4 linked regions of the Homo sapiens genome follow. The protein of the gene in region 1 purifies or fractionates together with the protein of each later gene. This does not show direct contact. Each region holds a gene or a part of one and is shown in the gene's direction. Other genes may lie near its edges.

The links.
Region 2: the proteins of DEFB1 (region 1) and PMPCB purify together in Homo sapiens (affinity purification with mass spectrometry; 2 studies listed by BioGRID and IntAct, with this or other methods). This does not show direct contact.
Region 3: the proteins of DEFB1 (region 1) and PM20D2 purify together in Homo sapiens (affinity purification with mass spectrometry; 2 studies listed by BioGRID and IntAct, with this or other methods). This does not show direct contact.
Region 4: the proteins of DEFB1 (region 1) and ARB2A purify together in Homo sapiens (affinity purification with mass spectrometry; 2 studies listed by BioGRID and IntAct, with this or other methods). This does not show direct contact.

Annotation. Positions count from the first base shown.
Region 1 is NC_000008.11:6,874,937-6,881,914, reverse strand, and holds the start of DEFB1 (beta-defensin 1 preproprotein), read left to right. Parts: upstream 1-3,978; 5' UTR 3,979-4,057; coding exon 4,058-4,118; intron 4,119-6,978. UniProt on the Homo sapiens protein: Has bactericidal activity. May act as a ligand for C-C chemokine receptor CCR6. Positively regulates the sperm motility and bactericidal activity in a CCR6-dependent manner.
Region 2 is NC_000007.14:103,307,430-103,314,456, forward strand, and holds part of PMPCB (mitochondrial-processing peptidase subunit beta isoform 1 precursor), read left to right. Parts: intron 1-166; coding exon 167-279; intron 280-1,522; coding exon 1,523-1,666; intron 1,667-2,885; coding exon 2,886-3,046; intron 3,047-4,213; coding exon 4,214-4,299; intron 4,300-4,378; coding exon 4,379-4,467; intron 4,468-4,626; coding exon 4,627-4,702; coding exon of another isoform or gene 4,703-4,770; exon of another isoform or gene 4,771-4,777; coding exon 4,778-4,842; 3' UTR 4,843-5,139; coding exon of another isoform or gene 5,140-5,214; 3' UTR 5,215-5,517; coding exon of another isoform or gene 5,518-5,672; 3' UTR 5,673-7,027. Other genes in the region: DNAJC2 (dnaJ homolog subfamily C member 2), read right to left, coding at 5,140-5,214, 5,518-5,672. UniProt on the Homo sapiens protein: Catalytic subunit of the essential mitochondrial processing protease (MPP), which cleaves the mitochondrial sequence off newly imported precursors proteins. Preferentially, cleaves after an arginine at position P2.
Region 3 is NC_000006.12:89,156,028-89,163,054, forward strand, and holds part of PM20D2 (xaa-Arg dipeptidase), read left to right. Parts: intron 1-2,297; coding exon 2,298-2,433; intron 2,434-5,377; coding exon of another isoform or gene 5,378-5,481; exon of another isoform or gene 5,482-5,743; intron 5,744-5,755; coding exon 5,756-5,863; intron 5,864-6,081; coding exon 6,082-6,236; 3' UTR 6,237-7,027. UniProt on the Homo sapiens protein: Catalyzes the peptide bond hydrolysis in dipeptides having basic amino acids lysine, ornithine or arginine at C-terminus. Postulated to function in a metabolite repair mechanism by eliminating alternate dipeptide by-products formed during carnosine synthesis.
Region 4 is NC_000005.10:93,877,656-93,884,682, reverse strand, and holds part of ARB2A (cotranscriptional regulator ARB2A isoform 1 precursor), read left to right. Parts: intron 1-2,994; coding exon 2,995-3,213; intron 3,214-7,027. UniProt on the Homo sapiens protein: Plays a role in the regulation of alternative splicing, by interacting with AGO2 and CHD7. Seems to be required for stabilizing protein-protein interactions at the chromatin-spliceosome interface. May have hydrolase activity.

The DNA of each region.
Region 1 (6,978 bases):
ATCCCGGGTGTCATTTCCTCCATTAGACTGTCATTCATCACAGGTGGGTCAGTAGCCTCATCCCTGGGCTGTCAAAGGCTTGTGCACTTTCTGCCACCACAGCCCCCATCAGTCTCCTTAGTCAGCGCCCACCCACAAAGGCCACACTTTGGTCAATTGTGAGTGATGAAGCCAGGACTCTGGCCAGTCTCACTGCAATATTTATGTGAAAGTAGATGCTGCATTCTGCTTGTATGTGGTTTCTCCTGGGCACATGGCACAGGACCTGGCCTCCTTATCATCTCGCCCGGGCTCCCATGCCTTCCGAGCTGGCTACCACGCCTCACTCCTCAAGAGCGCCCAGGAGTGAGCTCTGCTCTCCAGCATCACCCTGTTGATGGACGTGAGCGGAACAGGGTGATGCCCTGGACACTGGGACTAAAATGACCTTCTTCTAGCACCCTCACAGGATGCTTGAAATCCTGAAAATGTAACCTTAAAAAGCAAAGTGTTTCTTCTCAAAAGAAGACATGTATGCAGCCAAGAGACACATGAAAAAATGCTCATCATCCCTGGCCATCAGAGGAATGCAAATCAAAACCACAATGAGATACCATCTCCCACCAGTTAGAATGGCGATCATTAAAAAGTCAGGAAACAGCAGGTGCTGGAGAGGATGTGAGGAAATAGGAACACTTTTACACTGTTGGTGGGACTGTAAACTAGTTCAACCATTGTGGAAGTCGGTGTGGCGATTCCTCAGGGATCTAGAACTAGAAATGCCATTTGACCCAGCCATCCCATTACTGGGTATATACCCAAAGGACTATAAATCATGCTGCTATAAAGACACATGCACACGTATGTTACTGCAGCACTTTCACAATTGCAAAGACTTGGAACCAACCCAAATGTCCATCAATGATAGACTGGATTAAGAAAAATGTGACACATATACACCATGGACTACTATGCAGCCATGAAAAAGGATGAGCTCATGTCCTTTGCAGCAACATGGATGAAGCTGGAAACCACCATTCTGAGCAAACTATCACAAGGACAAAAAACCAAACACCGCATGTTCTCACTCATAGGTGTGAATTGAACAATGAGAACACATGGACATAGGGTGGGTAACATCACACACCGGGGCCTGTTGTGGGGTAGGGGGAGGGGAGACAGATAGCATTAGGAGAAATACCTAATGTAAATGATGAGCTAATGGGTGCAGCAAACCAACACAGCACATGTATAAATATGTAACAAACCTGTACGTTGTGCACATGTACCCTAGAACTTCAAGTATAATAAAAAAATAAATAAAATAAATAAAAAATAAAAATAAAATTTAGAAAAAAAGTTTTCCAGGTTCAGAGCAGAAAACATCAGTCCTGAAAATCAGGATTCCAGGGTTTAGATTCCTTTCACTCCCAGGATCTACAGACACCATCGGACCTCACATGGTGCCCGGCAGCATTCTGAGATTTTTTACTTTATTATCTTGTAAACCCCCAAAATTTGAGACAGGTCTCATTTAATTTAAAAAGTTTATTTTGCCAAGGTTGAGGATGTACCTCTGACATAGCCTCAGGAAATCCTAACAACATGTGCTCCAGGTGGTCAAGGCACAGCTTGCTTTTATACATTTTAGGGAGACATGAGACATCAATCAATGTATAAGAAGTACAATAGTTCTGTCCAGAAAGGCAGAGACAGCTCAAAGCAAGGCCCCCACCACTGGGGGCTTCCAGGTCACAGGTATGTGAGAGACAGACAGTTGCATTCTTTTTATTGTATTTTTGAGACGGAGTGCGGTTTTGTCACCCAGGTTGAAGTGCAGTGGTGCGATCTCGGCTCACTACAACCAATGTGTCCTGGTTTCAAGCAATTCTCCGGCCTCCGCCTTTTGAGTAGGTGGGATTACAGGTGTGTGCCACCACACCCAGCTAATTTTTGTATTTTTAGTAAGGACGGGGCTTCACCATGTTGGCCAGGCTGGTCTCGAACTCCTAACCTCAGGCGATCTGCCCGCCTCGGCCTCCCAGAGTGTTAGGATTACAGACGTGAGCCACTGCGCCCTGACCGGTTGCATTCTTTTGAATTTATTATAAGTCTTTCCAAAAAAGTTAATCGAAATACGCATGTATCTCTGGGAGCAAAAAGATGACTTGAATAGAAAAAGAGGCAGATTCGCAATAAGCAGTTCCCAGCTTGAAGGTGCCTGAGATATTTTTCTTTCACAATCTTATTGAACCCACACCTGGTGTAATAACCTGGAAGCCTCCCCAGGAGGCGGTCAGCACAGAGGCTAGGGAATGAGGCTTTCCAGGCCATTACACCAGTTTTCCATTTACCAGCAGGGTGACCTTGGGCAATTTGTTTCAATTCTCTGAACCCCAGTGTTTTTCTTCTCTAACATGAGGATTATATTGCCTGGTCAAAGAATCATAGTGTGGCTTCAATAAGACAGAAGGAAAGGGACAGAAACAGATCCGATAGAATACTGTAGCTAGCTCATTGAGGCAGTTCACAGACGGTGTTTGGGAGGAACTTGGAAGAGGCTGAGCCATGTCTTACCCAGCACCAGCAAGGAAAGCTGTGTTTCGGTTCTTTCTTTTCTCTTTCCACAATCTCACTGCTCCTAGGTCAGGCATGGCTCAGCCTCTTCCAAGTTTTCTCCCAAACACCCTTTGTGAACTGCCTCAATGAGCTAGCTACAGGATCCCACTGCATCTTTCTGTCTCCTTCTTTCTGTCTCTCTGAATCTATTTCTCTCTATCTCTCTCTCTCTCTCTATTTCCATCTCTCTCTGTCTGTTTCTATCTCTCTGTTTCTCTGTGTCTCTCTACTGTCTCTCTGCATGTCTCTGTCTCTTCCTCTGTCTCTGTTTTTGTTTGTCCATCTTTCTGGATCTCTCTCTGTCTTTCTCTGGCAGGGTTGAAGTGGGAGTATACGGCAGGTTCATGTTTGGGTGCAGAATGGCATTCTGCCAGCGGTAGAGTGGCTGAGGGTCACTCCACTCTGGGTGTCTCATGCCATGTGGCTGCAGTATGGGGTTCTCATTGGACCACCGTGACAGTGTAGGGTGGATGTCATTCCTGGAAACTGAGCCTCAAGCTGGGTTCTCCAGCAATGCCACCACCCCCCACCAACCCTGATATCCTCCGAATAAACTCTTCCCTTCCTTGGTCAGCGAGAGCCAGCGTCTGCTGCTTGCAAATAAGCCACTGAGACATCAGGAAAGCTGCTCACAGAATTACAATGAAAATCAGTAATAAATAAAATGTTTCTTAAATCTTTAGAATCAAGGAAAACCTGAGGGATACTTGGAGAGTCGCTAACAGCACCCCAATCTGGCAGTTGTAGCTCTGCAGGGTGGGCCCAGGCTGGCCCAGACCCTCACCCTCCAAGGGCCACACTGGGGGCTCACTTTCTGAGGAGTGCCCTTTGGAAACGTCCCAGGAACACGTCTAGTGGGAAAAGAGAAAAGTTGGTCCATCGAGGAGAGTGTTCTGCATAAGGGGAGAGATGAGAAGGTAGCCTTGGCCAGAGGAAGAAACTTCATTACAACCAGCTCTCCTTCTGCAAGGGAAGAGGGTGAAGTTTGAGTTTGTCTTGCAGGAAGACAATCAAACTAAAGAGGCCAACACCAGCTTAGAGCCGAGCGGCCCCCTGCTCAGAGCTTCCCTGTGGCTCTCCTCCATGTGATCCAGAAGGAGGGACTCCAGTGTGAACTGCCTGTTCCAGAAACCCCATCAGAACTGCCTAACCTAGAAAACCAAACAGGAGGAGCTGGCACCAGGGCTCCAGGCTGAAAGCTAAATCCAGCGGCAGCCAGATGGAGACAATGTGCCATGTGACTGCTGACTGCTCAGGGCAAATGACACCAGGGGTTAGCGATTAGAAGTTCACCCTTGACTGTGGCACCTCCCTTCAGTTCCGTCGACGAGGTTGTGCAATCCACCAGTCTTATAAATACAGTGACGCTCCAGCCTCTGGAAGCCTCTGTCAGCTCAGCCTCCAAAGGAGCCAGCGTCTCCCCAGTTCCTGAAATCCTGGGTGTTGCCTGCCAGTCGCCATGAGAACTTCCTACCTTCTGCTGTTTACTCTCTGCTTACTTTTGTCTGAGATGGCCTCAGGTAAGCTCTGGTACCTGCAAGAGTTTCCCATCCCCAGGGCTGGGGACAATGGGGCTGATGTGAGTCTCGGATGGCTGCCTCCGTGTCCCAAGGGACGAGGAACAAGCAGCAGGAAAGCATCCCGTGGTTGAGTGGCCTGCAGTTGGCAGAAGGCAGCAGGCAAGCCCTGCCAAGCCTTCAGGGTCTGTGAGCCGCCAAGGAGTGAGCCTGGCAGGGTCATGGCGCTTGTCACAGGCAGCTGCCTGCATCCTTGTCCTGGACATGTAGACAGTATCCTATGTGGATGAGATTGCTGCTTCCCCTGCAAGACGACTCCTCACACTGAGAGGCCAGCTTCCTATGCAGAGAGAGGGGCCGGCCCCATCCTCAGCCCACGTCACTGGGTGCAGCCTCCTGGGGTGCCCTGGTACAGGTGAGGTGCTGCCGCCCCACCCATCAGGCCAGCTCAGCCGGTGCCTTGGACTCACCTCCTGTGCAGGCAGGCGGTCCTCTCCCTCTCCTGAGAAATGCATCCACATTCTCCAGGTTAGCAGTCTCCCCAGTCAATAGGAGGGGGCTTCCTGTGAGCCAGGTGTATGTCAGCTTCTCTGGGCCAAAGCAGCCATGACCCTGACATGATGGTGGGACGTGCAGGAGGAATCGGGAACATGTTTTATCCCAGCCCTATCCTTGTTCACACGAGTCACATGGTGCTAAGCCTTGGTTTATTCATCTGCAGAATGAGGGGCTGGGAAGGATGATCCTGAAAGCAAGCACTCCAGTTCAGAAAGTCTCTGTAAGATCCTATTGTAAGTTTCTCTAGGCCATCACTGTATCCAGCAGATAGGCTTAATTTATTCCAATTATGCCTCAGTTTTTCCATCTGAAAGCTGAGTACAAAAGCATTCTAAATGCAGAACTTTTCATGCTGCCAGTTGCTACAATGGATTTTGTTTTTTTGTTTTTTTTTTTGGTTTTTGGTTTTTGGTTTTTGTTTTTGCTTTGCTTTTTTTTTGAGACAGGGTCTCACTCTGTCACCCAGGCTAAAGTGCAGTGGTGTGATCTCGCCTCACTGCAGCCTCTGCCTCCTGAGCTCAGGCCATCCTCCCACCTCAGCCTCCCAAGAAACTGTGACTACAGGCATGCACCACCACACCTGGCTAATTTTTTTATTTTTATTTTTTCGTAGAGATAAGGTCTTACTGTGTTGACCAGGCTGGTCTCAAACTCCTGGGCACAAGCAACCCTCCTAGTTCAGACTCCCAAAGTTCTGGGATTATAGGCATGAGCCACTCCACTCAGCCTACCGTGTTTTTTTGTTTTGTTTTGTTTTGTTTTTTTGAGATGGAGTCTTGCTCTGTCACCCAGGCTGGAGTGCAATGGCACAATCTCAGCTCACTGCAACCTCCACCTCCTGGGTTCAAGCAATTCTCCTGCCTCAGCCTCCTGAGTTAGCTGGGATTACAGGTGCATGCCACCAAGCCTGGCTAATTTTTGTATTTTTTAGTACAGACGGGGTTTCACCATGCTGGTCATGCTGGTCTTTAACTCCTGACCTCATGGTCCGCCTGCCTCCGCCTCCCAAAGTGCTGGGATTACAGCCATGAGCCACCACGCCCAGCCCATGTTTTTTTAAAGGAATAGAAAATATTACTTCATGCCATGTAGTAAAAGTAGATGCTATTTAATTACACCCATATTTCAGTTTGGGGTGTGTGCATATGTTTTTACTGAGTAGCAGTGAGAAATTTCTTTCTGATGGTGGTTCAGTCCAAACTCAAAAGGGTTTGAAAGGCACTTTGTTAACATAAAGAATTTTTGTTTTCAGTCTATTATATCTAAATTGAATTATGAGAAGCTATTCTCGAGCCTTCCCAGTCACAACTCCCTCCTACCCCCAAGAATAATCACTCACTTGACTTTTATGGTGGTAACTTTTCATATTCTTTACACTTTTGCCACACTAATTAATATTCAGGTTGAATAGTACAGCTTGGTTTGTGCACACATTTCTATTGGCCAGTAGGTGCCCTTATGCCTCTATTTCTACATGCTGAAAAGTTGCATCACCGGATCATAGGCTATGCATATATTCAATTGTATTGGACAATGCCAAACTGTTTTCCAAGATTATTTACACCAACTTGCACTCCCACAAGCAGTGAATAAGAGTTCCTCTTGCTCTGTATCCTTGCCAACATTTGATAACATCAATTATTTTTAAATTTTAACCACCTGGTGAGTGTAGCAATAGCTCACTGGAGTTTTAATCTGCATTTCCCTGATAAATAATAAGTTGGGCCCTTTTATACATAGTTACAGGCAACTGGGTTATTTTTTGTAAAATACCTGTTTGTCTTTTGTCCATGTTTTCTTTTGGATTATCTGTCTTTTCTTATTGGTTTGTAGTTCTTTATGTATTTTCTATGCAAGCCTTTTGTCAATTATATACATCACAAATATCTTCTCTTGCTTTGTGTTTTGATTTTTCACTCTCTTAATGGAAACTTTCCTAGAAAAGAGGCTTTTATCATGATTTCAATGTAGTCGAATGTGTCATGTCTTTTTCCGTAAGGTTACTGCACTTTCTATCTTGTTTAAGAAGACTTTCTTTACATCAAAGACATGAAGATAGTCCCCAATATTGTCTTCTAAAAGCTTATCCTTTTTCTTTTTACATTTAGACTTACAATCCATCTGGCAATGGGGTGTGTGTGTGTGTGTGTGTGTGTGTGTGTGTGTGTGTGTGTGTGGCTTCGGTATGAAGTAACGGTCAAGTTACTTTTTTTCCCCAATATGAATATCTGATTGTCCAGAACCAACTTTTTTTTTTTTTGAGACTGAGTCTCGCTCTGTCACCCAGGCTGTAGTGCAGTGGCAC
Region 2 (7,027 bases), on another chromosome or scaffold:
TTGCAACACCAAGGAAATAGGTGTGCTATGTGAGCTTACTCTTAAATAATGGCTTTTAGTGAGTGTAGATAGTTCATGTGTAATGTACATCACATTATACCACCTAGGGTTTATTGTAAACTATATTGCTGCTAGATACATGTGAAAATATTTTCTTTCAATTTAGGTGTTTCCCATGATGAATTGCTTGACTTAGCAAAGTTTCATTTCGGTGACTCTTTATGCACACACAAAGGAGAAATACCAGCTCTGCCTCCCTGCAAATTCACAGGAAGTGAGGTAGGGCAAGCCTTCCAGCTAGTATTTAGCCTTTTGGATTCCTTGTGTTGTATTTACACATAAGTAAACAAAATGTGCATATTTCCAGTAGGAAAAGAATGGAATAATAGGAAAAGGGAAGAGGATGTACTCATTTGCTTACATTCCTTCCTCTTCCGTATTCTTTAACCACCTATTTTTCTTCCTAAGGAAGCAAGGTTTTTTTTGTTTTGTTTTTAAATTTCTCCATTCTAGTCTGAAAGGAAGCAAAGTTTTTAAGAGCAGTTTATAATTTGGTCTTTTTGTGCTTTTTCTTTGGCACTATGCCAATTTACATATTGTAATATCTGGAAGTAATCTTTTAAACCCCGTATTTTGACTTTCACTTCAGGTTTACTCTTGGCTCAGTTTTGCCCACAGTATGTTTTGGGAGGGGGTAGTAACTGTTAGAGCCAGAACTTGCAGGGGATCTACTAGTTATCAACTAGCTTTAAGCCCCACTAGCTGCTTAGTTTGCCATGTTGAGGATGATGCTCAAAGTAGTATCTGGAAAATGCCCTGATATTGGCAGCTGCCTAGAACTGTAGCATTGGCAGTACAAAAATAAACCTGTAACGTCAATATGACATTTCAATAGAAAAGTTCAGATTGAGGCCGGGTGCGGTGGCTTACGCCTGTAATCCCAGCACTTGGAGAGGCTGAGGCGAGTGTGTCACTTGAGGTTAGGAGTTTGAGACCAGCCTCACCAACATGGTGAAACTCCGTCTCTACTAAAAATACAAAAATTAGCTGGGCGTGGTGGTGCATGCCTGTAGTCCCAGCTACTCGGGAGGCTGAGGCAAAATTGCTTGAACATGGGAGGCCGAGGTTGCGGTGAGCCGAGATGGTGCCACTGCACTCCAGGCTGGGCGACAGAGTGAGACTCTGTCTCAAAAAAAAAGAAAGAAAAAGACAAATTCAGATTGACAAACACAAAGGATTGATTTCTACCAGTGAAATGATGCAACCCTTTTGACCAGGTAAACCATGTGGTGCCTGTCTGTAGTAAAATGCTTTGGGAAAAGTAATTTTTCCCTAATTTAGTCTTAATTCTTCTAGATTAAACTCAACAATGTAATGAGGCCTGATAGTTAAAAAATCAAAATAGAGTCCTGGTGTGCATTTTAACTTTGCAGTTAATGGGACTGGTGATTTTTTCCTTGTTAATAAGCATGTTATATAATGTTAATCTTAACTAGAGGTCCTCCTGCTTTATCTTAACTAGATTCGTGTGAGGGATGACAAGATGCCTTTGGCGCACCTTGCAATAGCTGTTGAAGCTGTTGGTTGGGCACATCCAGATACAATCTGTCTCATGGTTGCAAACACGCTGATTGGCAACTGGGATCGCTCTTTTGGGGGAGGAATGGTAAGTGATTTTAAAAGAAATTTTCCATAACAGATGGAAGATTATCATGTTTTCTTAAATATAAGTTCTTTGTAAGAATCCTTTTTTAAAGTGGCAGAATAGAGTCTTGTACTGTGAATTCTGACTTAAAAATATAAACTGATCCTGGATTGCATGTGGGCCAGAAAAAGTTTCTTTTTTTCTTTGCCACAAAGTTTATTAGTGGCAAAATTTGAATAAGGACAGAATTAGCTAGAAGTACTATGTCAATGTTAATATCCTAATTTTAATAGTCAGTAGGCCCTCTATATCTGTGGGTTCCATATCCGTGGATTCAACCAACCATAGGTGGAAAATTTTGGGGAACAAATGGATGGTTGCATCTGTACTAAACATGTATGGACTTTTTTTTTGGTCACTTCCTAAACAATATAGTATAACAACTATTTACATAGCATTTACATGGATTGGGTATTTATCTAGAGATGATTTAAAGTATACAGGAGAATGTGCTTATATGCAAATATTACATATACCATATTACATGAGGGCTCTAGCATCTGTGGATTTTGGTATCCACAGGGATCTGGGAACCAATTCTCCACAGATACTGAGGAACTATACCAAGGTGATGTAAGAACATTAATTTCCTTGTTTTTCACAAGTACATACTAAAGTATTTGGGGCAAGAAGCATCACATCTAAAACTCAGTTGAAAAAACTTGTATAAAGAGAATAAAGCAAACATGGTAAAATAACAGGGAATCTAGATAAATGAAATTCTCTGTACTGTTTTTGCAACTTTTTTGTAAGTTGGAATTATTTCAAAACACATTGTATAGATTTGTCTTTACTCATAGATTTCTCCAAAATACATTTCATCTAAATAATCTTAAGCTTCATATGCAATATAACTTTGAATCTTTAAGCGTATGTAGCCAAGAGTCCTAGAAATTGGGTTGATAATAGCCATCTAGTTTTAGAAGTAGGTATAGCTACTACATTAATTATAAGGACTCATTGCTTTTATAACATGAATTTCTCCAGGGGGTGCACTGGGTAAGTGAGATAATAAACACAATTCTTAGTCATACTGAATTTTAACTCTACTACTGAGATGTTGAATAAAACTAGGAAACAGCCTCTAAGGATATTCACTATTTTCCACACACTCCATTTTTCTTTCTGTATTTTGGACATGTATAATTAAAATTCTCTTGGAATTTTTTTTTCCTTGCAGAATTTATCTAGCAAGCTGGCCCAGCTCACTTGTCATGGCAATCTTTGCCATAGCTTTCAGTCTTTCAACACTTCCTACACAGATACAGGATTATGGGGACTGTATATGGTTTGTGAATCATCCACTGTTGCAGACATGCTACATGTTGTTCAAAAAGAATGGTGAGAAAAATAGCTTTAAGTAATTTAAATTTTGCCTTTAATTCGTTTTAAACTAGTTTTTTATTTATACTTTATGGTGATTTATGGTAATTTTACCTTTTAATTAAGAGACCTAGATAAACAGTAGTTGCCATGTTTTCAAAGGTTGCAGTTGGTTTTTCCTAAGTCTCAAGATGTGAAGCTGATTTATACTATAGAATTTTTTTTTTTTTTTTTTTTTGAGATGAGGTCTTGCTCTGTTGCCCAGGCTGGAGTGTAGTTGTGCCATCTCGGCTCACTGCAGCCTCCGCCTCCCAGGTTCAAGCCATTCTCCCACCTCAGCCTCCCGAATAGCTGGGATTACAGGCGCACCACCATGCCCACGATGCCTGGCTAATTTTTTGTATTTTTTAGTAGAGATGGGGTTTCACCATGTTGACCAGGCTAGTCCTGAACTCCTGACCTCAGGAGATCCACCCTTCTCAGCCTCCCAAAGTGCTGGGATTACAGGCGTGAGCCACCACACCTGGCTGAAAGTTTTAATCTTTCAGAAGCAGGTTAATTCAGAAAGATGATCCTAAAAGTTTAAAAGCCAACTAGAAGTTGTTTGGAAAATATCTCTGAAAGTAATCTGGTTGAAGGGAAAGTAAATCTGAAGTTGCCACTGCTAAAAGAAAACAAAGTATATTGAGTCGATAGATGGGCAGAAAGGCTCGCAGCTTCTTGGAAAACATTTAGCTCTGGTTCCTTTCCTCCACTATTCTTAATTGGTTTACATCTTTCTAAATCTAGTCAACTAGGATGTAATTATTGTTAAAAATTAGATTTAAGTTAGACTCTACTCATTGTTTTCAGAAACCAATGAATGACCCACTGACTTAACCCATAGCATATCAGACTCCAACAGATGAGGACTCATGAAGTCTCAAGATGCTTATAGCATTTCTGAAAATGTGATCAGCCCATTTGTATAAAGCCTTTGTCTGCTAATGTGTAATTAGGCATGTTTATGTATCATTTTTGAGAAATTAATACTGGGGAAAATAATCATTTTAGCTTTTGCTTAGCATTGGAATTAAATTGTAATCACCTGTATGTTTTGTGTAGAAGATGGCATCATCATTCTTAGGTCATTAACTCATGAAATACAACATTTTCCAACTACTACTGTTTTTCCACGTTTTTTAGGATGCGACTCTGTACAAGTGTCACAGAAAGTGAGGTTGCACGAGCCAGAAATCTTCTGAAAACAAACATGTTGTTGCAGCTTGATGGTAAAAATAAAGATATAGGTTCTGTTTTCATATGGTTGATCTGTATTCCAATAGTTAATTTTTCCTTCTCTTTAAACAGGTTCAACTCCAATTTGTGAAGATATTGGTAGGCAAATGTTATGCTATAATAGAAGGATTCCCATCCCTGAGCTTGAAGCAAGAATTGATGTAAGTAGTCCTGAGTTACTATTGGGTCATGTGTAAAAAGATCCTTGTTACAAAAGCTGAGAATATGTATCTTTCATCTTGCTTTAGTTTTAAAAAGTTCCAGGTATAGACTTTGTTTTTACTACAAACAGCTGAATGACAGTGTCTTCCATATTTCAGGCTGTGAATGCTGAGACAATTCGAGAAGTATGTACCAAATACATTTATAATAGGAGTCCAGCTATTGCTGCTGTTGGTAAGCCTGGCTTCTTTTCTTCTATGCAAAAAGTTGGCCAAGTACTTTTAATTAACTCTTCTTTTTAATCCTTAGGTCCCATTAAGCAACTACCAGATTTTAAACAGATACGCAGTAACATGTGTTGGCTTCGTGATTAAAATGCTCCTAATCAAGATTGTTTGAACACATGTATTTATAAAACAGAGCTAGAGAAAAATAAAAATGAACATGTATATACATTTGGAAATTTGAATTAAATACTGTATCATACTTTCAAAGGATAAAAAGACTACCCCTCTGAAGGTTGTTTTGTATTAATGGTCAGTCTTTGTTCTCTGAGAAATTATGTTGGAAGCAGCATACTTTCAAATTATTACCATGAGTATAATTTTAAGAATGAAAATGTTTACAGTATTTTCAGTTTTATTATAAAAATGCACACACAACAAAGATTGTCATTTCTTGGCTCTACTTGCATTCAGCACTTGTTCTTGAGCAGCTTTCTTTGCTTTTACCATCTCGACAAGTTCCTAGGAAGGGAGAAAGGTGTGATTTAAGAAGTTGCGATTTAAAAACAGACATTTTAATCTAGTGTTTGGTGTAAAGAATTCAAGCAACTAAGATAGATAGTACTAAATATACTGATTTCATTATCTGCCAGGGCCTAGAAAGTTTCTAAGGTTGCTCATTTCTTCCTCATAATATTGACCCCATAACTACTGGTTTTGAAATAAGCACTATATTATTAACCACTTAATAGACATAAAATATGAGCTATATCACCCAAGCTACAATTTAAAATACAACAATCTATAAACGCTTAAGTCTGCAACCTTGTATCGTTTCATGCAGTCCTTCTTTGTCCTGCCAGGCACCGCTTCTGCTATTTTTTCCCATCTTTCAGGTGTATTTACTGGGTATGTTTTCAAAGCTTGTTCCAAAAGCTTCTGTTCTTCTGTTGTCCAAGGGGTGAAGTCTGTATATGGACCTGATTAAGAAAAATTTTTATTTGAAAACTGTCTTTGAACATGTTCTCAGACAAGTCTTGTGGTCCACAAGTATTCGCTAAGTGCCCATTTCAATCTGGGATGTGTCATTTTGAAAATAAACTTGTAGAGATGAGAGATACATATAGCCCTCTGAGTGTTAATAAGAGAAAAAATTTCAGATAGCTCACATCCCAGAAAATAAAATCTCAAAGGCTTTTAAAACACAATAGTAAAGATCTACCTTGTACTGTTTATCTCTTAAAAATCAATGTAATACACTCACCAGACTGGTAAAAAGCCATATTTAAATTTATAGTACTGTTGGACTCTTGGACTCAAAAACACAACCACAATTCATTAAGAGTTCTGATAAATCTACTTCCTTACAGAATAGGTAAAAGAGCTTCCTCACAGTTAAACTTTTGCTGGATAGAAACCCTGGAAATCATTCTTGTTTTACACTGAAGGAAACAAACCTAGCAAAATTAAGCCAAGTGCCCAAGGTACCAGTGCTGGAGAGGCAAGCTGAGATTAGATTGTGTTGTAGTGTGGTGTTCTCTTCGTCACATCTGCTAAAATCTTGGGAGCCGATGCTGAACACTTCCAATAACTGCTATTGTGGTTCTTCAACTAAACCTTGTATATTTCAGAAAACATCTAAGATGTGTGTCAGAAACAAATATGTTTCTTAAGGATGTTAAGTATTACACAGTCCACTTGTGTAGGTAAAAGTAGAATGTTAAGTGGTAGAAAGCTGATTTGGTTAAGTTAATGGACTTCTGGCAATTTAGTTATTTCAGACTATGCAGTGACAACACAGACTAATACTACCAGTAGCCTGACTACTACTAGAAACTGCGGCCTGTGAGATCTGTTAAAAGTTAAGCCTAGAAACCAAAGTTCCTTCCCAATTAAAGAAGGAAAAACAAAACAAAACAAAACAAAACCACCACCTATTCAAAACAAAGCAGAGAATTTGTATAATATTTGATGGTACCTAAGGTGCCTAAGAAGCTTTTTTGAAGGTAGCTTTTAAGTTCTAGGAAGTCTTTTGTTGAATTTCCTTGTATTGGTTTAAAGCCCTAAATACCATAGATTTTATTTCCTCTCTTGGAAAAAAGATGGAAGTGACATGGCAGTATTTCCTGCTGTTCTCCAGTTACTTCACAATACCAAAATAAATTAAACGTACTGTTGCAAAACTCCTATGAGAAATCACTATTCAAAAAATGGTGCCAGCTTGCTGTTTAATGGTACAACTGAAGAGGAAGGAGCCTTCCCATTTCCATAAAAGAGGCAAAGGAGTCATACCCACATAGCACTACTGCCAGTCACTCTTGCCTTCACAGGGTCA
Region 3 (7,027 bases), on another chromosome or scaffold:
GCGCCTGCCTCCACACCCAGCTATTTTTTTGTATCTTTAGTAGAGACGAGGTTTCATCATGTTGGCCAGGCTGGTCTCGAACTCCTGACCTTGTGATCCACCCACCTCAGCCTCCCAAAGTGCTGGAATTACAGGTGTGAGCCACCACACTGACTGGTTTTGTTGATTTGAACTATAAAGTTAGTATTTAAAATCATGTACTGTGTAAAGTGGAGTGAGTTTTAGAATTATACAAGATAAGAATCTTGCCCTAGAGGGAGCCTGTAGTCTAGTTGGAGAGACAAGATCTTGACCCATAACTCTCAGCCTAGCTAATTCTGTAACCTTTAGAAATGTTTAGTGTCTTTGGCTCTCCATTTTCTTGCTTGAAAAATGGAGATAATAACAATTTATCTTAGGATTCTTGTGAGAATTAAATGAGATAATGTTTCTGAAGGGTTTAGAGCCCAGCCTTCATTTATATTGCCTTATTTTTTTCTGTTCTTATTAGTCTAGAGATGTATGATTGATTCACGTAGTAGCAGTATCTCACAGTAGCAGTAATTCTCAGAAAGCATATGTTACGTGTCCTGAGAGTAGTGTGGAATGTGTCGTGAGGATCAGAGGTGGGAAAGAGTGGTCTGGGGCTGTTAACCTTGGAGGAAGGTTTTGTGGAAGACTGTAGACCTGAACTGAGCTTTGAAGGTTGATCATACTTTCAGATATGCATGGGAAAGACAGAGACTGAAAGTTCTTAGGGAATATAGTCAGCAAAGATAAGAATATAGAAGCTCGTGTTGTGTTGTAGTTAATCGATAAACATATGGACAGATGTAGGAGCAAAGATGTATTCTCATATGCCACTAGAGAAGATGGTTATAGTGAATGAAAACTGTGAAATGTCCATAGCTGAGGGCAGTAAAAACTAAATATTTATTCCCTTATTCATTTATAATTATAAATATTTATTTGTGAAATACTTATGGATGTGAACTATTATCATTAGGCAATATCTCAAGGTATACAGTATTCCCTTATGGTAAGGTTTGTTGTTATTGGATTTGAATCTATATTTAATTTAATTTATTTATTTTTAAAGTTTTTTGTAGAGATAGGCTCTCCCTGTGTTGCCCAGGCTGGTCTCAAACTCCTGGGCTCAAGTGATCCTCGTGCTTTGGCCTCCCAAAGTTCTGGGATTGCAGGTGTGAGCCACCTTGCCTGGCCTAAATCTATATTTTAAATAATCTTTTAGTAATTTCTTATATTTTGGCTGACTTGTAAGGTCTGATTTGGTTGTCATAATTTCTACCGTAGATGTTGCTAAGAATAAAAGAAATGTCATCTCTGCCATTTTATGATTGGCTTTTGCTAATATTGGTTTGAGGGAATATTGCCAATTTTTATTTAATCAAAACTGAATCTGTAAATCCACTTAACTGGGCACATAAAAGCTGCTTCCGTATCTTTATATACTGAAATTAATAAATGAGGACTGTTGTCAACCCTTCCTCATTGCAAATCTTCTACATTTCCCTCAGAGTACTTTTCTACCTCTCACACCAGGCAGTGATGTCAGTGTCAGTTTGCATATTGAATATTAGTAAAGCTTAATTTCTTTTTTTTGGAGACTGAATCCTAGAGCAGTGTTCCTCAGAGTGTGGTTTTTGGGTCACCTATGTCAGAATTACTTTGAGGTGCTGGTTAAAATAAAAATTAGGCTGGGTGCAGTGGCTCATGCCTGTAATCCCAGCACTTTGGGAGGCCGAGACGGGCAGATCACATGAAGTCAGGAGTTTGAGGCCAGCCTGGCCAACATGGCAAAACCCCATCTCTACTAAAATACAAAAACAATTAGCTGGGCTTGGTGGCAGGCGCCTGTAATCCCAGCTACTTGGGAGGCTAAGGCAGGAGAATCATTTGAACCTGGGAGGCGGAGGTTGTGGTGAGCTGAGATCACACCACTGCACTCCAGCCTGGGCAACAGAGTGAGACTCCATCTCAAAAATAAAATAAAAATTTCTGGGCCCTTCTCATACCCTATCTAGGTGACTGAAGTTGACACTTGGTAGCTAGTATAGAGCTTGGTGACATTGTGGGGTTTAGTGTATATATAGCATAAAAGAGAGTCCTAGGAACTCTCGTTATAGAAAATAAATCTTTTTTCTTTTTTAAGGTAAGAGATTTGAGAGTGTTTATATCTGGAAGGGAAAGTATCTTCTCTTAAAACCTCTTCCTATTAGAGAACAATCACTGGTTTGAAAATTAGATAGTGAATTTGAGTTTTTTATTTCAAAATTTGTTTTGCAATTTTTTATTAGGTGGAAATTAAAGGTGGAGCACATGATTATTACAATGTTCTTCCCAATAAGAGCCTATGGAAAGCCTATATGGAAAATGGAAGAAAGCTAGGAATAGAGTTCATTTCAGAAGATACAATGTTGAATGGCCCTTCAGGTAATTAAGTGTTTTTTTATATATTGAGCTATTTGAGGAAGAGAAATACCATCTTTGGTTAAATTGGTTGTATTTAATGGTTTGGGAGGTCGGGAGGTACTACTGACGTTTTTAATATTTTCACAAACTTTATGGTTAGGGGAAAGAAACTAATGGACTCTTAAGTGAGTGTAGAATGTCAAACGAGCAGACTTGATTTTAGAAATAGTCAACCTACATTTTTGTCTGTATTCTAAATATTTTCTAGTGTTTAAGTTTCGTTAGTTTTAATTTTTAAGTAAGTTGCTAAGGTGGGATATAGAATTTTAATTCATTCTCAGTCATCACAATAAGCAGGTTACTAAGTACTTAGTTATCTGGGGCATTTTCAGTTTCTGAGGAGCAACAGACAGCTAGAATTGAAATAAGCATATTTGGGGTTATGTTAGTTTTTTTTTCCTTTTAAAAGCATATTATTACTAATACATTTGCAAGTTAGAGATGTATCATCTGTTTTAAAAATAGATGTTGTTGAAGTAGGCCCAAAAGGACTTGGTGGTGAAAATGGGGTGTCGGTGTCATTCATTAAGATAAGGAGTTCAAGAGAAAGAGCAGGTTAGGGTAAGAGGGGGTTGTTATAAATTATTAGTATGTTAAACTTGAGGTGCTTATAGTATTTCTAAGTGGAGCTGTTCAGTACCTGTTAAATCTAGAACCCAAAAAGATGTCTAGTTTGGAGATTTAGGAGTTGTCCATATATGAAAGGTATATAGAAGACATAGATGTCGATGAGGTTGCCCAAATACATAGAGGAAGAAGATTCCCAGAGATCAGACATTGGCAGTCAACGAAGTGGTCAGAGAGAAAGCCAGACAATCAGGAGAGAGGAGAAGTCATGGAAGCCAAGGGAGAAGAAAACTTACAGAAGAGAAGGAGGCATAAATCATGTCAAGTGCTGTAGAGACTGAATAAGATGAATATGGTCTAGTGTCCACTGGACTCTAGTAATTAGAAATTCATGAATTGTCTGGAAGAAAATAGTATAAGACCAGTGGTACCAGATGCTGGGTCTCACTTCTCTACCCAGGGCATTGACTGCTGAGATAGTGGAAGTAGCAAATGAAGACTATTCTTTTTCAAGAGAGTTAGCTTTCAAGGAAAATAGAAAGAGTGGATACAAGCTTGAGGGAAATACGGAAAAGAAAATAGTTTTTAAGGGAAGATACTTGAGAAGTAGATGTAATGTTTAGGAAGGAGGTCAGGGAGTTCAGAGACTTTCCCTCTAGGAAGTAGCACACAGTGAGCATTGAGCTGGTAGGGCTGAGGGATTGAGAGAGAATTGCCACTGAGAGGAGTTGTCCAGGGACATCAGAGTTTCATGTTTTCTTTTGTTCTGGACAGCAAGAAAGCTCAGCTCAGCATGGTTCTGTTCTTTTACCCTAGCAGGTTTCTGCTGTCTAGCTGAAGAAGGGAAGACACATGGCCTGCTCTACCCCGGGTTTGGGTTTTATATAATGGACAAAACAGTAGGATAAAGTGGCTGTGATTTTGGTATGATTTGTGGGCTCTAGGGTCTAGTTCCACAAGTAAGATCTTAAAATATGCAACAGGTTTTTTTTTGTCCATCCTTTTTTGTTTTGTTTTGTTTTTACACTCAGACTCTTTAGACTCTTTAAACACTGGAGAGGCTTTTTCCATCCTGTTCACTGATGTCCCATTACTGTGCATCCTCAGTGTGTGGAGCCGTTTCTGGCACAGTTAAGTGCTTAGTGAATATTTTCTGAAGCAGTACTTCTATAGAGGCTACTATGCCTCAAAGTCTGGCCTCAGTCTGCATTTACCACATAACTAGCAGCTGTGAGACTATCGGCATGTTATTTAATACCCATAAGCCTTGGTTTCTTCATGTTTAAAATGGAAACTGTTCTAAATATTAATGAGAATACATACAAAGCACTTAGGATTGTGTTTGGAACGTAGTATTCCAGATAAATGTTAGCTACTCTTTGTCACATATTCCTTTATTCTCTTACCAATCACTGTGTAGTCTCACTTTGCCTGCATGGTGTTTGACATGTAATAAACATTCAGTAAATATCCATTGAGTGAACATAAGGCTTTGTTTTTACTGTGATTTATTCAACAAGTGCCTGTGTGTCAATCCTGTGAGAAGCTAGATGCACAGTCATTTCAAATACTATTTCTTGCCTCATACAGCCTCATAATTTAGTTTCTGACATAAGCATGAACCAAATCATCCAATACATGGAAAATTAAAAAGTACTGTAAAGGAGAGTAATACATCTCTGTGAGAGCTTATGCTAGAGGAATTTCACTTTATGGGAAGGTGAAGTAAGTAAGGCTTTGCTGAGGAAATGATGCTTAAGATGGAATTTGAAGGTTAAGTAAGAGTTACAGAGATGATGCAGGGATAGCATGTGCAAGGGTCCTGTGACAGGGAGAGCATGGTGAGTGTCTAGAGCGGCTAGGGCATCGAGAGTAGTGGGAACATGGTATGAGATCAGGTTGGAAAGGTGAATGAAGATTGAAAAAAAAAAGACGGCAAATAGAGTAGATGCTGCTAGACCAATTAGGAAACTTCTAGTTCAGGCAAGAGATAATGATAGCATAGGCTGAGGACAGGTGTTGGTGATGGTGATGCAAAGAGCGTTAGGATTCTGAGATATTTGGCAGGTACTGTTGATAGGTGGAGTGGAGGTAGAAGAGAAAGATCATGAGTTTGACTTTAGATATGTTAAGTTTGATCTACCTTGAAGACATCCAAGAGAAGATACCAGGCTGGCAACTGGATGTATGAGCATGGAACTTAGCAGAGACTGGGAAGAGATTTGAGTTGGTGGTGATTTGAAGCAATACATACGGACAAAATCTTGAGAAAGAATATGCAGTAAGAAGAGAAAGGGGCCTGGAATGGAGTCTCCCGTAACTATTATTTCATCGTCAGGTAGAGGGGGCTCTATCCCCAAGAGAGACAGAAGAAGGGGCCATCAGAGAGGCAGAAGGGAAGCCATGCAAGTGCTGTGTCACAGAAGAGAAGAAAGGGAGTAGGTGGCAGTGTGGAGTGCTGGCCAAGAGGGCCAGTAAAAGCCGTGAGACAAGGTGAGGGCAGGTTTGCAGTGACCTTCATGAGAGATGTGACTGATACAGGGGAGTGGGTGGCAGACTCAGTGGAAGGTGAGCCCATGAAAGCATGAGCATACGGACAACTCTCCAAGAAGCTCACTTCTCTGCGTCTCTTCTAACAGGGACTGTGACTTCATAACTCCAGAATACTTAACCACATATACTTAAATAGACTTTTCTTAACTTTGTGTGTTCCAAGGATCTACGGATTTTGGAAATGTTAGTTTTGTGGTTCCTGGAATTCATCCATATTTTCACATTGGATCTAATGCCTTGAATCATACTGAACAGTACACTGAAGCTGCTGGTAAGTGTTGTTGGATGTGACTGTTTTGGCACACACACTCTTCTTCTGGTAGTAGCTGCCTTTCTGTTTAACCTACTATTTCACTACATAACATCACCTCAGTAAATACTGCACTGTGGTGGGCAGTTGGAGAGCCAGTTGAGATACGGGTAGCTAACCTGTGAAATTAAATACAGCTTAAATAAGTAAGGAGGTATTTTATTTTCTCTACCTTTTAGGGTCACAGGAAGCTCAGTTCTACACTCTGCGGACGGCCAAAGCTCTGGCAATGACGGCACTGGATGTTATTTTTAAACCAGAGTTACTGGAAGGAATCAGAGAGGACTTTAAACTGAAACTTCAAGAAGAACAGTTTGTAAATGCAGTAGAATAAAAGACTTAGGGGCCACTTATAAATCAAGAAGACGTGATGATTTTTTTCTTTTAATCTCTTTTAATGAAGGCATGCTTGTTTTTTAATCTTAAAGGAGTAAAATTCTTTTTACCTGATAAGTGAGGACAGGGTGTGGAGAAAACATATTAATTACCTCATATCTAAAGTGAAAATTTTTGCAAATCCGTACTTGATAGGATTATGATATTACAGGAGCTGGTATGTGATGCCATTCTTTCTTTTTTTTTACCCCGCAACCACTCACCTTCACAGTAGTGATACCATTTCTTAACCTGGAGGATACATGGCATCATTTTTATAAAATATGTTAGTAAACCTTTTTGTAAGCCTTAAATGTTATGTGTATTTTTAAAAGCTTAAGAGATTTCAAACCTTATATTCAGAATTGACACCCATGAGAGTGTTTTGTGGTATAGGGTGGTAAACTTGTTCTCTAATCGTATATTAATTCCTCTACCAGATTGTATATTTGAAGCCAGTGTCTTTCCTTTTTTTGTTTTAAGATAGAGCCTCGCTCTGTTGCCCAGGCTGAAGTGTAGTGGCACAATCTCGGCTCACTGCAACCTCTGCCTCCCAGGTTCAAGTGATTCTCCTGCCTCAGCCTACCAAGTAGCTGGGATTACAGGTGTGTGGCACCATGCCCAGCTAATTTTTGTATTTTTAGTAGAGACGGCATTTCACCATGTTGGCCAGGCTGGTCTCGAACTCCTGACCTCAGGTGATGCACCTGCCTCGGCCTCCTAAAGTGCTGGGATTACAGGCATGAGCCA
Region 4 (7,027 bases), on another chromosome or scaffold:
CCTGAGTATTTCTTGATTGTTGTCACATTAATTAAATTGGCAATCTGAAATATCTAAAGGATAAAATATTTTCTAAATAGTTTGGGTGTTTAAATAGAAGCATCCATTGTTGAAATCTAAATGATAACAAATCTTCAATTGATTTATATAGTGGTGATTTAAAAATAGAATCATTTCTCATCTGTTGATGCCTAAGGGAAACATTGACATTGTGCCTTTATGATATTGAACAGATGAGTCATGTAATTTTCAGTTACTTAGACAAATACTGCTTCTTTGATGATATATAAATGCCTTTTTTAAAATACTTATTTACATGGAACATATCAAATTTCAGAGTCTTATTTCAAATTAAGTAGGCACGATAATTTTTCAATCTATGATTTCTAAAAATTGAAGTTTAAAGTTCTGCTCAAATAAGCCAGATATGAAAATATTATTTTTTTGATTAAGTAATAAGATAATAGTCTTACAATTCTGGTGACTGTAAATTTTGTTCAAAGAGTTTACCTTTATTTGAGATTTATTCATTATACAAAGATGATGCCATGTTATTTCAGCTTATTAAAGTCCCACTCTTTTACCTTGAGTGAAGTTTTTGAATTTGAAATTTTTCATATTATCATTAAAATGTAGTATATCACTATTTTCATCTCTACTAATTTTAAGATTCTATTTTGGTCTTGCTAATTTTAACTCCTGAGTATGAGAGGGTGGTGTGTGTGTGTGTGTGTGTGTGTGTGTGTGTGTGTGTGTGTATGTGTATGTGTATGTGTGTATGTGTGTTTAAAGTTCAATTCACTCAGAGAAGGCAAGGAAGAAACATGACAGGAGACCACTTACTCACGGTACAGAATCTAGTAGGGAGGCAATTTTCTTTTTGGCCTATGGTGACCTTTTTTGACTATGTTCCTTACACCAGAGACAGTGTACTGAATGCCTCTATTTCACCCTGTTTAGCAGAGTGCAACAGTGTTCTTTAACTTACTTTTGGTGGGAGGAGAAGTTATAGCTGAAATTTGAGAAGGGCGTGAAAAGTTGTAAGAGGCACAAGGAAGAGGGGTAGGAACTTCCTTCAAATGTGATTTTAATAACTAGTCAAGTGTGTCCAACTGTAGAAAATCACCAAGTGACAATCTGTCTACCTGACAGTGATCACAATGAATTACAAGACTTTTGAATAGCTATACAGATTAGAATAAAGCAGGACCAAATAAAATATCTTTTGTTGGTAAAACTTTTGACTTAGAGCTAAGAAACTTTAAAAAAAATTCTCTTTTGCTTTGATGTAGAAAGTTTAAATTACAGAATGTGTAAAGTGTTTTATAAGCTTTTTGTGAAAGAAGCATTATTCTAAAAGCTTTATTTGAACATCTGTTGAAGAATGGGTGGTGGTTTGTAAATCAGTTTGCTATATATTATTATATAGTTTCCATATATGTAAGATGACTGTATCTTAATTAATAGTCCTATCATTAAAATCAGAACTTCAGTGATCTTGAAAATTTCCAAACTAAATAATCGTTTTAGACAATAATATCATCTGATGGAGGAAAAAATAGAAAACAATTCCAAAGAAGTTTGTAAGTAGTTTGTGAAATCAACTGTTTAAAAAAACCAACCATGTGCAGTAATGCAGCATATTTTAAAATAAGATAATTGAGTCTGTGCTATTACTGGTTTACTATTACTGCTGTCAATTTTTTAAAATCATCTTATGGTTGGTTTGGCAAAAAATTTAAAATTTAAACTTCAAGTAGAAGATTCTACAGTTACTGTCTTGAAAAACTATATATACTACCTATTTTAAGTAAGGATGAGATTTTATAAGTTTTATTTTCTATTAAATAGATTTTCTAATAAATAGATTTTGTGAGCTATTTTCTGTAGCTCTTATGTTTTTATTATAATATCATACATCTTTTAAATATGACCTTATAGTATTTTACAAGGACATAATTGGAACCTCACAACACATAACTGAATAGAAAAGACAAGATATATAATAGCTTCAAAAATTTGTGTTACCCATGCTTGTCAATGGTTATTGTTTATCCCTCTCTATATTTTCTCATGGTTAGCTTATTCCATTAGACATAATATAAATATCAAACGTTTTCTTAATTATAACCACAGAAATGTTTGCCAGGCTAGAAAGAAATGAGACAGGAAAACATGTTTTACAAATTTAAAAAAAAAAAAGCCTTAATAGCTCAACAAGCTGTATTTTTTAACTTTGGAACCTTGCTTATTTCCTGATTATAGTTTTTAATAAAGAGAATTTTTATGGTAGGTTGAAAAATGAAAGAAATTTTAAGATTAAAGACTTGCTTCCATACATTATAGTAAGACAGTGGCTTATTTTGCTACATGATTTTTCTGGCCTCCTGTGAGAAACAAAGTGAATAAAATTCAAGGTACACAAGTAGATGTTATGTCTTTATAATAATGTAGGTATGGATGGTTTTGTAATGTTAAATCAGATTTATTCTTTTTTAACTGCTTATTCTTTTTAATTGTTCAGACAAATAAAAAATGCTCTTGAAAGGGCCATTGTAAAGAAAAATATACAAAAAAATGTAGTTTGAATTGTAAACTTTGATTTCAGAGGTTGTTTTCTCAAAACAGATAGTATAAATATTAATATAATTTGAAAGTTTACTTGAAAATAAATTATTTGCTAATTTATTTCAGTCATTTTTGGGTTCTGAGATATCTGAATTAGTTTTTTAATTTAAGCTTTATAATCTTTATGTTGCAATTATATTTTTTGTTCTTATAAATAATAAAAGCTTATTTATATACACAATAAAGGCAAACAATTTTAAATGACTTTCTTTTGAAAAAAATAAAATCATTATCTTGCCTAAAGGAGTATTTTAATGAATATGCAACTATATAAAAATTGCTTAGACTGAAATTTTAAGAACTTTTTTGAAAATTGAAATGGATTATAAGATTTAAATTATGCTACCTTCTTTCATTTCAAAACAGGAAGGATATGGAGTAATAGTACTAAATCCCAATGAAAACTATATTGAAGTAGAAAAGCCGAAGATACACGTACAGTCATCATCTGATAGTTCAGATGAACCAGCAGAAAAACGGGAAAGAAAAGATAAAGTTTCTAAAGAAACAAAGAAGCGACGTGATTTCTATGAGAAGTATCGTAACCCCCAAAGAGAAAAAGAAATGATGCAATTGTATATCAGAGTGAGTGAGATCACTACTTTCCTTTACTATTTTCTTTACCTTGTATATATTTTATTATATGTAGATTGTTTTGTTTTTCTTCAAGAATATTAATTTTTTTATTTGTCATCATTTATTTCCCATAGTCGTCTACTTGGATTAAATGGGTTTTTAAATTCAGAATTACAAAACGCATCATTCTTATTTCAGTGTGACATTTTATAGAAGTCACAAATGCAAATTCTGTTTCCTTTTGTGTCATATACTACCTCAAGAAAAATTTTCTAAAATAATTTTATTGTGATGGATGCAGAAGGCAGAAAACTTGCCAATTCAGTTTCCAAACACGCTGTTTCTTTAAGGAAACATAGCATCAGCATAACATGCCGTTATGTTGTCCATAAGAGAGAGTATATGTAGCCTCACAATTCTAAGACATATCACCTGCTGAATTAATAATGCTCCATACAAAACATTCATCTTGGGGGGTAAGGTTTACTGGATAATGCATTGTTTTACGATGAGCAACTATCTACAGTGTCTCAGCCTAATGTCTAAAGGCAGATAGAGGGAGGAAGAGTAATTAATATCTTAATAAATACTTAAGCCAAAATAGTGTAGGGATAGTGTAATGAGGGAACTCTGTCCTTTTCTCTTGTCCTACCCAGCGAACTTTTACACTTTGTAGTACTAACGGTATGGGATCATTAGAGCAGTGTTGCCCAAGGATTTCTAATTCTGTAGGGGGCACAAACAATTTTGTTTACACTTGGACATATTCAGAATGTTGACATGCATACTATAAATTATATATATGAGACATTTGTCAATTTTCAAAGCCCTTATTATGGATGCTAGAAGTTTAATAGTAAAGCATGTCGAAAATGCTACGGGTTAAGAAAAATAGTATATTGAAATAGTCCTCAAAAGTGAGCAATTCAGAACATTTAAACACAGAGAAAATAACGTTTTATAAATTATACAATAGGATAGTAGTAACATTTCAAATTATTCAACTTGAACTATTTTTACATTTACTTTAGAAGATCATTAATAAAATGTTTCATACTACCTTTTAGGGGAAATATATTGCTTTCTAAGTTTTTATTTTCTGTATTATTCTAGTTCATGGCATAATCACTCTACTTTTTGGAATTGTGCTTTAAACATTCAAAATATTTTATTTATAGGTCAGTCTATTGAGTAAGCTATGACAGTTAAGCAGTGGTGAAAACAGCATATATATTCCCAAGACCCCAAAAATGTATCCTGACAAGGAATTCTCAAAGCAGCTCATATAGTGAATCAAGCAGATTATAATATTTAAATTTTTAGAAAGCATCTCACTATTTAATATATTATTTGAAAAGCAAGAACGCTTATTATATTTAGAAGCAATAAGTAGCTTGTTTGTTCCAATGCGGTTATATCACCCCCTTTCTTTCATATGATTACATCGGGGTCATGATGTTACCATCTTCTCTATCAGTTGTACTAAGCTTCCTTCTATATGATCCAGTCTGTAAACCACCATCTTATGACAGGTTAAAATTTTTAAAAGATTACCTCTGATATCCAGATTCCAGAAATGAATTATATAAGGCTTTTGAAATATAAAATTATAAGGAATACCTACTTGTTTATGTAAAATGCAAACAAAATGATATTGTATATTAGGTTTATTTCTTCTTAAACAATTTTTTTTTGCCTGTGACATGTACAGATTAAGCATCTATCTCAGATATCAGACATCTGTCCCGTAAGTTTATTTCTTCCTATTTTGTCTTTATCTTGTCACCATTGCTTTGCTTTTTTTCTTTTGTTCTCTTTATGCATGCATTTTCTTTATTCTGTTTTTCACATCTGCTTTGTTTTTCCTCTCATCTATTTTTTCTTATACCAAGGAAACAACATTCTTTTTATGTTGCTTCATTGTTAAGACCTGCTCTCTTTCCTTTTGTTTTCTTTTTAATTATTTTCTCTCTTTTAGACTCCTGTCATTTTTCCCTCTTTTCTAAGTCTTTTTGCCTCTTTGTCCCATTTCACTCATCAATTCAAGTTCCCAACAAAAGCACCAAAAGACAAAAATAGGCCCAAACACATAATACAACTTTGTATCGATGGTCTTAGTTATGAAATGTTTTTTCTTAGTAAACATCATTTCTCTTAAAATCTTCTGGAATTTTGCAAAATAGCAGAGATGTGCTGACACTCTTCAAACATACTTCTAGATAGTAAGTTTTGGCCTTGTAGTGGGAAAGAGAAGAACGGTTCATTTTGTGTGAGGTGTATTAATTCCTTAGTAATTTTGATCCATTCTGGAAATGACTTCTGCTAGTGCTCTTCTTCTCTCTACTTATCTCCCAATACCAAGTGTTTGTAATTTTCAGACACAGAGCATTTTATATGATGGAACTAAACTAACTTTTATTTATATACTTCTTACCAATTTACAATTTGAAATTATCTTCTATTCTTTGTGACAGCCTAATAGGTAGATGAATCACATCATTTTGTCCTGATTTTATAGTTGGAAACTGATGCACAAATGTTAGTCTAGGATCACAAAGCTAGTAAATGGTAGATAATAAATCTACTTGTTGAAACCAGGACTAGTAATTACTGTAGATTCTTCCCCTCTTTCTTCTTTACCACATTGTTCTGTAGATTGAAAACAAAATATGTATCTGAAATTTGAAAATTAAGCCATGTGTAGTAAATGTATGATACAATATAGTAAACAACATTTGATGACAAAGATAGATTTTTGATCAGCTATTATTTAATGGACTCTGTTTCTTAAATGTTTATAAACAATTTATATGTATAAATGTAAGTATTTCTATAAATATGTATATATATTTATATATTCTCTACAAATAGTATGACTAATACTGATCCAAATTTACAGATCAGATTGTGGGTCAAAAATTTTTAGCTTTTGGAGGGTGGAAACTCAGTCTGAGGACCCTGCCCCAGGAGCAGGAGCTATCATATCCTCCCCTCTGCCACTTTCCATTGCAACTAATAAAGCCTGTTTGTACCATAAACACACACACACACACCCCTTTGAGTAATTTTTCAAAGGTCACATAGCTCTTAATATAAGCTTCATGAGGGCATGTACTTAGTCTGTTTTGCTCGCTACTGTATCCCAGAGCCTACAACAGAGCCTTCATAATAAATATTTGTAGAGCAGATCTTTCACAATAAATTTTAAATAAGGTGGTAGAGCCAGGATTAAAACCCCTCACTACAACTACCACTTTTTAAAATATGTCCTGCATTATTAAAGTATACAGCTTGATTTTCTATGAGGAAACATTCCAACAAACCAAAACAAAAAGTCAAACAGCACTACAATTGTTGACTTCCCACTCAATCCAGTAGCTGAGATTACAATCCAAAAATTAATGGTATAAGGTCATTATTTGATACCTTGAACTATATATTTTCATCTGAATATATAAAAGTAGAATATCCTATTTTCCTTTTGAGCTATGTCATTATACTGCTAAAATTATGGATGAAAATGGAAATGTTTCAACCTGACCCATTGCAATTTCTGTGTTACACATTTGCTCTTAAGAGTACAGCCAGGCTGCTGGGGTTACTCTACCCTGTACAAACTTTGTGCTTTATGGAATCTGTAACTTCAATTTCTGTTCTTTCCTGAATCCAAAATTCTATCCACTTACAACCCACGTTATAAGTGCCTAGCTGAAATGCCACCTCTTCCTCTCACTATAACCGATGACCCCTCCTTACTGAGACTCATGGAATGTATAATGATTAGCTAATTTACATGGAATTTACCAGGTACTGTCTTGATATG